2 separate regions of the Homo sapiens genome follow, and region 2 is linked to region 1. Evidence: fine-mapped expression QTL. A gene starts in region 1. The other region holds a variant in brackets. All regions are shown on one strand. Distances are between the middles of the regions.

Region 1 (5,514 bases):
GGATGAACAGGTTGGTAGTGCTGACCGCCTGGCCGCCGCGCAGCAGCACCGCCAGCACCAGCGTGTTGCCCACGGTGCCCACGAGGAAGATGAGCGCGAAGAGCAGGGGCACGATGACCGCCTCGGGGTGCCAGCCTCCCCCGCCGCCCGCCTGGCTCGCGTTCCCGGCCCCTGGGCAGCCCGAGACGTTCATGGTGCCGCTGACCCCGAGGCTGCCCGGGCTCCTGCAGCCGTCTGGGTCTCCGCGAGCGGGAAGCTCCCGGGGCTGCGGCCGCTGCAACTCCTAGTGCGACTCTGCCGGGCTGAAGGCGGAGGGAGCCTTGCCTCATCTGGGGCGGGGATGGGGGTGCGCTGGGGTCAGGAGGAGGAGCAAGAGACAGGAGGGCGAGGTTGTCCCCAGCAGCGGCCGGCGGCGCTGGGGGAAGGGCTGCGGAGTGGTCCCGGCGCGCATTCCACGGCGCAGGCGGAGAGTGGCGCTTGTACCTGCTTCCGAGCTCCAGCCCCCGCAGTCGGGGGTTCTGGGCTGACCAGGCGGACTGACTTCCCCGGCAGACGCCGGAGCGGTGGAGGGGTCGACCCCGGACCCTGCGTGTGCGCCGCGCCGCAGGGAGCACGGACCTCGCACTCCGCGCGCCTCGGCGCTTCCCTGCAGCCTGGCAGGGGTGCAGGATATCCCGGGACCGTCGAGGGGCTGGGGTGCCCTCAAAAGAGGACCCCTGGGAGATCGGGGGGAGGAAACGCGGGGCGGAGGCGGATGAGGGGCCCCGGAGTCTGGCTCTTTCGCCCAGGCTAGAGTGCAGTGGCGCGATCTCGGCTCACTGCAACCTCCGTCTCCCGGGTTCAAACGGTTCTCCTGCCTCGGCCTTCTGAGGGGCTGGGACTACAGGCGTCCGCCACAACGTCTGGCTAGTTTTTTGTATTTGTATTTGTTGAGACAGAGTCTCACTCTGTCGCCCAGGCTGGAGTGTAGTGGCATGATATCGGCTCACTGCAACCTCCGCCTCCCGGGTTCAAGCGATCCTCCTGCCTCAGCCTCCCGAGTAGCTGGGATGACGGGCGCCTGCCACCACGCCTGGCTTATTTTCGTATTTTTAGTAGAAATGGGGTTTCACCATGTTGGCCAAGCTGGTCTCAAACTCCTGACCTCAAGTGATCCGCCCACCTCGGCCTCCCAAAGTGCTGGGATTACAGGCGTAAGCCACCGAGCCCGGCCACCTTTTTCCCTTCTCTTACCCATTGAACGTTTTCCCTCCAATTCAATCCAATATACTGAGCATCTATTGTGTCAGGCTCTGTCTTTGGCTCCATGCCTCAGTTTCCTCAGCTGTAACAAGGAAATGGTAACACTTCCTTCTAAGAGGGATCTGCTGAGAAAGGAATGAGATGTATGGGAGAGTTAGTTAAATCTGAATGCATCAGATCCTTATTCTTTTTCTCCTGACCTTATTCCGTATACCTTGAGGAAATTCAAAATAGAGTTCAGGGCCGGGCGCGGTGGTTCACGCCTGTAATCCCAGCACTTTGGGAGGCCGAGGCGGGCGGATCACGAGGTCAGGAGATCGAGACCATCCTGACCAACATGGTGAAACCCCGTCTCCACTAAAAATACAAAAATTAGCGGGACGTGGTGGCAGGCGCCTGTAATCCCAGCTACTCGGGAGGCTGAGGCAGGAGAATGGCTTGAACCCAGGAGGCAGAGGTTGCAGTGAGCCGAGATCACACCATTGCACTCCAGCCTGGGCAACAAGAGCGAAACTCTATCTAAAAAAAAAAAAAAAATCCGTCATTTAATCTTCCTAACAACCACTTAAATTGGTTATCCCCATTTCATAGATGAAGGAACAGATTTACAGGGAGATTAAGTTACGTGCCCAACATGTCCCTGCCGCTAATGACGGAGCGGGGATTGGAATCCCAGGTCTCAGACTCTAGAAGGTGCAAAGCAAAAATTCATATTTTCCCATGTCTCAACACTTCTCCCTCTTTGGACTGACGGCCCCAAAGTGCAGTGGTCCACGGCCCCAAGCGGTCTGAGAAAGTCACCCCGTTAGGACACCGTCTGCTGACTGCGCAGCGCTTCCTCCGGCTTGGCGTTCTTACGGCCAGCCTCAGAGGAAAGGGCAGGCAGAGGCGGGTCCCTTACGGACGGGGTGTCCCGTTCCGGTAGGGAGGACCCCATCTCTTGAGTCCCTGGGGATGCAGACACCCCGAAATCCAGTATCTTTGGTCTCCTGCTTTCTGCTGGGCAGGACGTGAACCAGATCCCCAGTCCAGGATGCAGGACCTGGGGTCCACCTCCGGTTCTCCGCCCTTAGTGGGTGGGAGGTGGGACTGCCCCCTGAGATCTCAGCAGCCACGGTCTCACTGCGGCCTCAAGTCCCCACCTAGCCAGCCACAATTCCGGACCCGGGATGACAGGATCCCTCGCGCAGGCGCGCTCCAGCACATGGCGCCCTGCTGCAGCAAGGGCCGACGGCGGCGGAGTCCGCCGCTATCCCATCAGCCCGGCCAGGCAGGTCCAGCTCTCACCCGCCCAGGTCGTCCCGCCTCCCCTATCCCGTCTTGCTCTGCGGCGCAGGGGCAAGATGGCTGCTGAGAAGCAGGTCCCAGGCGGCGGCGGCGGCGGCGGCAGTGGCGGCGGCGGTGGCAGTGGCGGCGGCGGTAGCGGCGGTGGACGTGGTGCCGGAGGGGAAGAAAATAAAGAAAACGAACGCCCTTCGGCCGGATCGAAGGCAAACAAAGAATTTGGGGATAGCCTGAGTTTGGAGAGTATCCTAGAGTAATCGGGCCTAACTCGCAATGATTACGTGTCGAACTGGAGGGCTGGGGGCGGGAGAGGCGGCGGGTCCCGACAAGTCCTGGCAGGAGAGGCCGAGGGTTGCAGTTTCTCTCGCCCTTACCTTTTGGTGCTCAGAATTCCGGGGGGGGTCTGTCTCTCGACTAGTCTTTCCTCGTGTCCCCCTCGCCGTCCTGGCTAGGTCCGTTTCTTCCAGTGGCACTGGGATATCAGGCAGGTTTCCCCTGGTGCCCCGCAGTTGTCCAGTTGGAGGGCTTGTGACCAAGTGACACCTTGAGCACCTTGCTTTGGCACCTTGAGCCACTGAACTGGGGAGAGGAAACTGCAGTCTTGACATTTGGCTTAATACTCTTGTCTGACAGTCGTCATAGACTGAGTAGTAAAACCTACAGCTCGATACTTTGAAAGTGGAGGTAAAGATTGACTCAGGAAAAGCTTGTTGCCCATTTTGATTGTAAGTTACCGTAGTTAATATCGATTGTGTCATTTTTTTCTGATCGGTCTGTAGGCATTTTATCTTGCTGACAGTCATTCATATAAGCTGGAGGAATCGGTTTCTAGTTTCCATCAGTGTGTATCTCAACCAAGTGCTTGTGGTACTAGTTTGTGACCTTTTGAAATGAATAACAAATGGAGAAAACGTAGGCGAGTTTCTGAAATAACACATTCAACTTGACATCTTAATGTGCTTAAAGTTCTCAGGCGCTTGGAGTTAAATATTTTGAATTACTGGTAATAGTTCCAAGTAGACGCTAGCGAGCCCTGATTTTACTGAGACCTTTATATCTCTTTGTCCCGTTTTAGTAATTTAAAGAGTCCTTTTAGCGTTCACTATTTTAAAATATGTCTCTAGAGAAGTGTTGAGGAAACATTAAAACTATACCTATATAGATGAAGGTCATTGGACTTTCTAAAGATTAGTACATAATCTTAAATATTTTAAGATTATTAAAAGGAGAATCTGGCCATTCTTCTTTTGAAAGAAAAACCTTAATACTTTTATGCAAACTGTAGCCTAGCTTGGTTGACATGTGCTAATCATAGACTCTCTAAGCATCACAGCTGTTAAGGAAAGTTAGATTTGGCAGGTGTTGGAGATTATGCAAATGGAGGCTTAGTACATGTCATTTATAACCTGAATCTGAATGAATAAAATGTGGGGTCTAGGTGTTAATTGGTGTGAAGCACCCCAATTATAGTCAGCATTTAGAATCCATCAGCTTAATTTAAACTGGGTTTTGGCAGTTTCCAGTGGCCAGTAGTGCCCTCCTTTTTCAGTTTGCAAGTAGTAACAGTTCAGGCAATCAGTTTTCCTGTAGGTTAGCCCTGTCCTGTGACAAGATAGATATTGAAAATGGTTACAAAAGATCTCACCAGTGTACTAAATATTTCACAAATTTGTGTGTGTGTGTGTGTGTGTGTGTGTGTGCATGTGCATGTGTGACTGAATCTCACTCTCACCTAGGCTGGAGTGCAGTGGCGCTGTCTTGGCTCATTGCAACCTCTGCCTTCCAAGTTCAAGCGATTCTCCTGCCTCAGCCTCCCGAGTAGCTGGGATTACAGGTGCTAGCCATTGCGCCCGGCTAATTTTTTGTGTTTTTAGTAGAGACGGGGTTTCACCATGCTGGCCAGGCTGGTCTTGAACTCCTGACCTCAGGTGATACACCCGCCTCGGCCTCCCACAGTGCTGGGATTACAGGCATGAGCCACCGTACCTGGCTATATTTCACAAATGTTTAATGTGTTGTGGTTTGACACAGATATAGACTGATGGTACAGGTTTTGATTTGTTTGGATTCTTGCTATGGTAAGATTTTCCTTAATCTCGACTCTAGTTCTTCAGATTATTAAGGAATCCCAGCAGCAGCATGGTTTACGGCATGGAGATTTTCAGAGGTACAGGTTAGTATCACATACAAGATGTTTGGAAATCATTGTGGGACTTGCTTTGCTTTTGTTAATATCCTGTTTACTCTGCTATATCAGCAAATATGCTAGAAAGTCTAGAGCATTGTTTTTTTTGTTTGTTTGTTTGCTTTGTTTTTTTTTTTTTTTTTGAGATGGAGTCTCGCTCTGTCGCCAGGCTGGAGTGCAGTGGCGCAATGTTGGCTCACTGCAACCTCCACCTCCTGGGTTCCAGCGATTCTCCTGCCTCAGCCTCCTGAGTAGCTGTTTTTTTTGTTTGTTTGTTTGTTTGTTTTTTGAGATGGAGTCTCACTCTGTCACCCAGGCTGGAGTGTAGTGGCGCAATCCTGGCTCACTGCAGCCCATGCCTCCCGGGTTCAGGTGATTCTCCTGCTTCTGCCTCCAGAGTACCTGGGATTATAGGCATGTGCCACCATGCCTGGCTAATTTTTGTATTTTTAGTAGAGATGGGGTTTCGCCATGTTGGCCAGGCTGGTCTCAAACTCCTGACCTCAGGTGATCCACCCACCTCAGCTTCCCAAAGTGTTGGAATTACAGGCGTGAGCCACCGTGTCTGGCCTATTTCTTTTTTTTTTTTTCTTTTAAATAATCTATACCCTGGTAGCTTTGATTGAGATGCTGAAGTAGTATTTATTTTATTTATTTTTGATACGGAGTCTCACTCTGTTGCCCAGGCTGGAGTATAGTGGCGCGATCTCGGCTCACTGCAACCTCCGCCTCCCGGGTTCAAGTGATTCTTCTGCCTCAGCCTCCTGAGTGGCTGGGACTGAAGGCACATGCCACCATGCCCG
Region 2 (5,000 bases), 27 kb after region 1:
TGGCTTACATTTATAATTTCTTAATGCATACAAATGCTAATGCATGTATGTCCATTTTATCAAATAAGTATATATGCTACATTTACATTTTATTTTAATATGCCTAATTTAAGATTTTTATATAGCTTAACTAGAACACAGCCAGGCATGGTGGCTCACGCCTGTAATCCCAATACTTTGGGAGGCTGAGGCAAATGGATTGCTTGAGCCCAAGAGTTTGAATTAGCTGGGTGTGATGGTGCACACCTGTGGTCTCAGATACTCCAGAGGCTCAGGTGGGAGGATCCCCTGAGCCCAGGGAGGTCAAGGCTGCGGTCAGCCATGATCATGGTCATGTCACTGCATTCCAGCCTGAGACAGCCCTGACTCAAGATTCTCAAAACAAAAACGAGAACACAACCAGTGTTTGAAGCTCCCTGCGGCCCTTGCCTCATTTCCTTCCACTCCTAGAGCTAACTGCAACCTTTGCCTCCCGGGCTCAGGTGATCCTCCCACCTCAGCCTCCTGAGTAGCTGGGACCAGAGGCATGAGCCACCATGCCTGGCCTGTTTATTTATTTATTTAGAGAGATGGAGTCTCGCTCTGTCGCCCAGGCTGGAGTGCAGTGGCGCAATCTTGGCTCACTGCAAGCTCCGCCTCCCAGGTTCACACCATTTTCCTACCTCAGCCTCCCAAGTAGCTGGGACTACAGGTGCCCACCACCATGCCCAGCTAATTTTTTGTATTTTTAATAGAGACGGGGTTTCACTGTGTTAGCCAGGATGGTCTCAATCTCCTGACCTCATGATCCGCCCGCCTCGGCCTCCTACAGTGCTGGGATTACAGATGGGAGCCACTGCCCCTGGCCCCCCGTTTTTTTTGTTTTGTTGTTGTTGTTGTTTTCAATTTTTAGAGTCAAGGTTTTGCTCTATTACTCGGGCTGGAGTGCAGTGGTGTGATCGTAGCTCACTGCTGCCTTGAATACCCAGGCTCAGGTGATCTCCTGCCTCGTGAGTTGCTGGGATCCCACTCTCTGTTTTTTGTTTTTTTTTTTTTTTTTTTCCACTGTGTGGTTCTTGAAAAAGGATGCAGAAGGTATAAATCAAGCTAAAAATCAAATTTTGTGATAAGATCTCATGCGGGTCCCCTGCAAACTTGCCACTGGATAGTAGCCAAATGGAGGGTCCCTTGAAGCCCAAGCCAAATGGCCCTGCTGTGGCCACGCCCCCACCCGCCCCCTGCTTCCTCTGGGTCAGCCCCAACTTGTAGTCCAGTCCTCCCAGTTCCTCCGCTTCTCTGAGTATAACTTGAGCTGACTTGTGGTGCATTCCAGCTACCTGACTTACATCAAGCTATCAACGGCAATCAAGCGTAATGAGAACATGGCCAAAGGTCTGCAGAGGGCTCTGCTGCAGCAGCAGCCAGAGGATGACAGCAAGCGCTCACCCCGGCCCCAGGACCTGATCCGACTCTATGACATCATCTTACAGGTGACCCTTGAGGACCGGGAAGGCAAGGGCCTGTGGTTTTCCTTTGCCTGTGTCGGACACAAAGTGACTTAACTTTGTATCACGGAAGGGCTGTGACAAGCAGGACCTATTAGTAGCTGGGAAGAGACAAAGATCTTACACCAGTTCTGCAGTCTGTGAGCCCCTACCTCTCAGACATGCTGATCTGCAGAGAATAGTGACCCCAGATCATCACTGAGCACTTGACCTGTGTAAGACGCTCCCAGGTGCCATAGAGCATCTGAGACCTGAGTCCATGCCATCTCGGCCCCCAGGGAGTTTGTCAGTCAGTAGGACTGTGAGACACACACAGTCAAGGCATCTGAGTAGATGCTAAGCAAAATAAAAGCTCAGCGCTGGAACAGATCCCTTCCAGCTAAGATGGGCCAAGAAGTCTCTGAAGGTGGGTGAGCTGAGTTGAGTTGTAAAGGGCAAATATGTTTCCAAGATCAGAGGGGAGTGGAGGTGACAGCAGGTGTGGCTGCTGCCCAATCTCTTCACAGGCTTTTCCCCATCGTATTGACCTCGGGCTTTTTTTTTTCCTCACTCTTGTCCGTTCTTACAAGGTCTTCTGTCAAAAATTCAACCTAAGATCTACTCTTCATGAATTTTCTTGTTGCATCTGTTGTACAGAATCTGGTGGAATTGCTCCAGCTTCCTGGTTTAGAGGAAGACAAAGCCTTCCAGAAAGAGATAGGCCTCAAGACTCTGGTGTTCAAAGCTTACAGGTAACGTCCCATGGGATGGGCAGTTTTCCTCCGCCTCCCAGGTTCTATAAGCATTGGGAGCATGACCCAGCCCACAGCAGATGGGACCGTTGGCCTTGAGTGTATGGTTACCTTGCCTGTGATCAGAGGAAGGTCAGCCCAGCATGTTCAAGGGGAGTTTCTAAAGGCTGTGGTCAGTAGTGGCCAGTGATGATGTCTGCCTTTTGGCCAGGTCGGAGGAGTGGAGCACACACGTTAAACTTGGCTTCCTCGCTGGGCGCGGTGGCTCACACTTGTCATCCCAGAACTTTGGGAGGCTGAGGCAGGTGGATCACCTGAGGTCGGGAGTTCGAGACCAGCCTGACCAACATGGAGAAACTCCGTCTCTATTAAAAATACAAAATTAGCCAGGCATGGTGGTGCATGCCTGTAAACCCAGCTCCTTGGGAGCCTGAGGCAGGAGAATCGCTTGAACCCGGGAGGCTCACCGCAACTTGGCGGTGAGCCAAGATCGCACCATTGCACTCCAGCCTGGGAGACAAGAGCGAAACTCCATCTCAAAAAAAACAAAAACACTTGTCTTCCTGTACTTTCCTCCTCCCTTCCAGGGGAAAAGGGGCACGCCTTGAAAGGGTGTTAATTAGCAGAACCAGTGTGGCCAGTTCAAGGAACTTGAACTGACTTGGGATAAAGCTAAACTCAGTTTCTTAAATGACTTGTGTCATTTGTAACTTGGAAGTGGGCTGGGTAGCACGATGGGGCCCAGCCAGGATGGAAGGCAGAGCCCCATGCATTCTTGCCCTTCCTCTTGTGGCCCTCACATGCCAGTGTGCTCTGGTGCTCCAGCATGCCCCGTCTTCACTCCATGGCCCCTTCTGTCCTGTCAGGGACCAGCAGCGCTCAGGCTCTGC[T/C]GAGCCCAGGAGAGGAATTTGACTCAGGAAGAACCTTCTGTGAGTTTTGTTTTTGGAAAGCGATGAGCAGAGATGAATGATTGCGACTTGGGTGTGTGGATGGGTTTGGGATTTCTATTTGAGCCGGGCAGCGTTCTTCCTTCCTTCCTGTCCCCAGCCTCACCATGCTCCTTTTGGGAACTGTTCCTCCTCTGCAGAGTCAGCCAGTCAGTAAAAAACCGTGGCTCAGTGTTGGGCCTACCTGGGCATCTCTGATTGCTGGGAAGCATCTCTGCAGGGTAGCCTACAAATCTGAACACTTCCCATGAAGGGGGCTCCCATGCGGTGATCCCACGTTAAGAAACCTGTTTCCAAATGTGAAATTTCGCCTAAACTGCAAGGAAAGCCTTGGTCTTGGGTAATTGCTGCTTTAGAATATTGTGGCTCTTTTCCCTCCCCATCAGGTGTTTTTTCATTGCTCAGTCCTATGTGCTGGTGAAGAAGTGGAGCGAAGCCCTTGTCCTGTATGACAGAGTCCTGAAATATGCAAATGAAGTAAATTCTGATGCTGGCGCCTTCAAGAACAGCCTAAAGGTGAGAGGTTGGCCTCTCCTTGTTTGCAAGCCCTGGCAGGTTATGGAGTCAGCTGTGGAGGAGCTGTGAGGGTACAACAGCTGGGCGCCACCTCAGGCTGGTCCTCCCTGGCTGCCCGTGGGACCTGGTGTAGCCCTGACTGCCCAGGAGCTGCAGGCTGTGTCACTCATGGCTGTGCTCCAGGCCTGAGGAGGATTTAGGTATGAAGAAGGGAAGGCATTTTTCTGATTTAAAAGAAACAAAAACCACCACAGGAAAACCTGAAGTACTGCTCTCAGACTTGACTGCACGTTGAAATCTCTTAGGAAGATTTTTTTCAAGGTAGATGTCTGGGTCGCACCCCCAGAGATTGTGGTTCTAATCAGTGTGAGGGATCTGAAGTGGGCATTGGGACTTAGAAAGGCCCCTTAGTGATTCTGACATGCAACCAAGTGAGAAGCACTGGTGAAGCTGTCCTGCAGGGCATGCGCAAGACCAGCAGCAGCGGCGGGGCCTCACTAGGAATGCAGCCTCTCAGCTCCCACCCGGAACCTTCTGCTTGTTTTCTTTCTTTCTGTCTTTCTTGAGACAGGGTCTCGCTCTGTCACCCAGGCTGGAATGCAAGTAGCACCATCATAGTTCACTGCAGCCTCGAACTCCTGGGCTCAAGTGACCCTCCCACCTCAGCCTCCTGAGTAGCTGGGACTACAGGCATGAGCCACCATACCAGGCCAATTTTTATTTTTTTGTAGAGATGGGGGTCTCACTATGTTGCCCAGGCTGGCCTTGAACTCATGGCCTCGAACTCCTGGCCTCAAGCAGTCCTCCTGCCTCTGCCTCCCAAAACCTTGAGATTGGAGGCATGAGCCACCATGCTGGCCAATATCTGCATTTTAACAAGATCCCCAGGCCATTTGGGGGTCTGTTAAAGCTAAGGAAATGCTTGATCTAAAGTACAGCCACAGGGCTGGATGCAGTGGCTCATGCCTGTAATCCCAGCAGTTTGGGAAGCTGAGGTGGGCAGATCACTTGAGGTAAGGAGTTCGAGACCAGCCTGGGCAACATGGCGAAACTCTGTCTCTACAAAAATAGAAAAAAATAGCCAGGTGTGGTGGTGCACACCTGTAATCCCAGCTACTTGAGAAGCTGAGGCAGGAGAATCACTTGAATCTGGGAGGCAGAGGTTGCAGTGAGCCAAGATCAAGCCACTGCACTCCAGCCTGAGTGACAGAGCAAGACTCCATCTCAAAATAAATAAATAAAGTGCAGCCATGGAAGGCTTTCTTTGCTTTACTTTTTTTTTTTTTTTTTTTTAAGATGGAGTCTCTGTCTCCTAGGCTAGA

The links.
Region 2: its variant is fine-mapped to the expression of SRP68 in whole blood (TOPMed, PIP above 0.99).

What each region holds. Positions count from the first base shown.
Region 1 is chr17:76,069,563-76,075,076 of GRCh38, reverse strand. It overlaps SRP68 (signal recognition particle 68), which reads left to right and starts at 2,560. Exons shown (of 16, transcript NM_014230.4): 1 at 2,560-2,769; 2 at 4,633-4,699. The coding sequence starts at 2,586. It overlaps GALR2 (galanin receptor 2), which reads right to left and starts at 296. Exons shown (of 2, transcript NM_003857.4): 1 at 1-296. The coding sequence starts at 193. RefSeq lists enhancers at 1-231, 1,618-2,445, 2,398-2,447, 2,446-3,273.
Region 2 is chr17:76,042,507-76,047,506 of GRCh38, reverse strand. SRP68 (signal recognition particle 68) reads left to right here. Exons shown (of 16, transcript NM_014230.4): 11 at 1,313-1,469; 12 at 2,121-2,215; 13 at 3,549-3,678. Among named protein-coding and RNA genes, the nearest start is that of EVPL, 18 kb to the right of the region's middle. The variant T/C (reference allele first, on the strand shown) is at 3,106.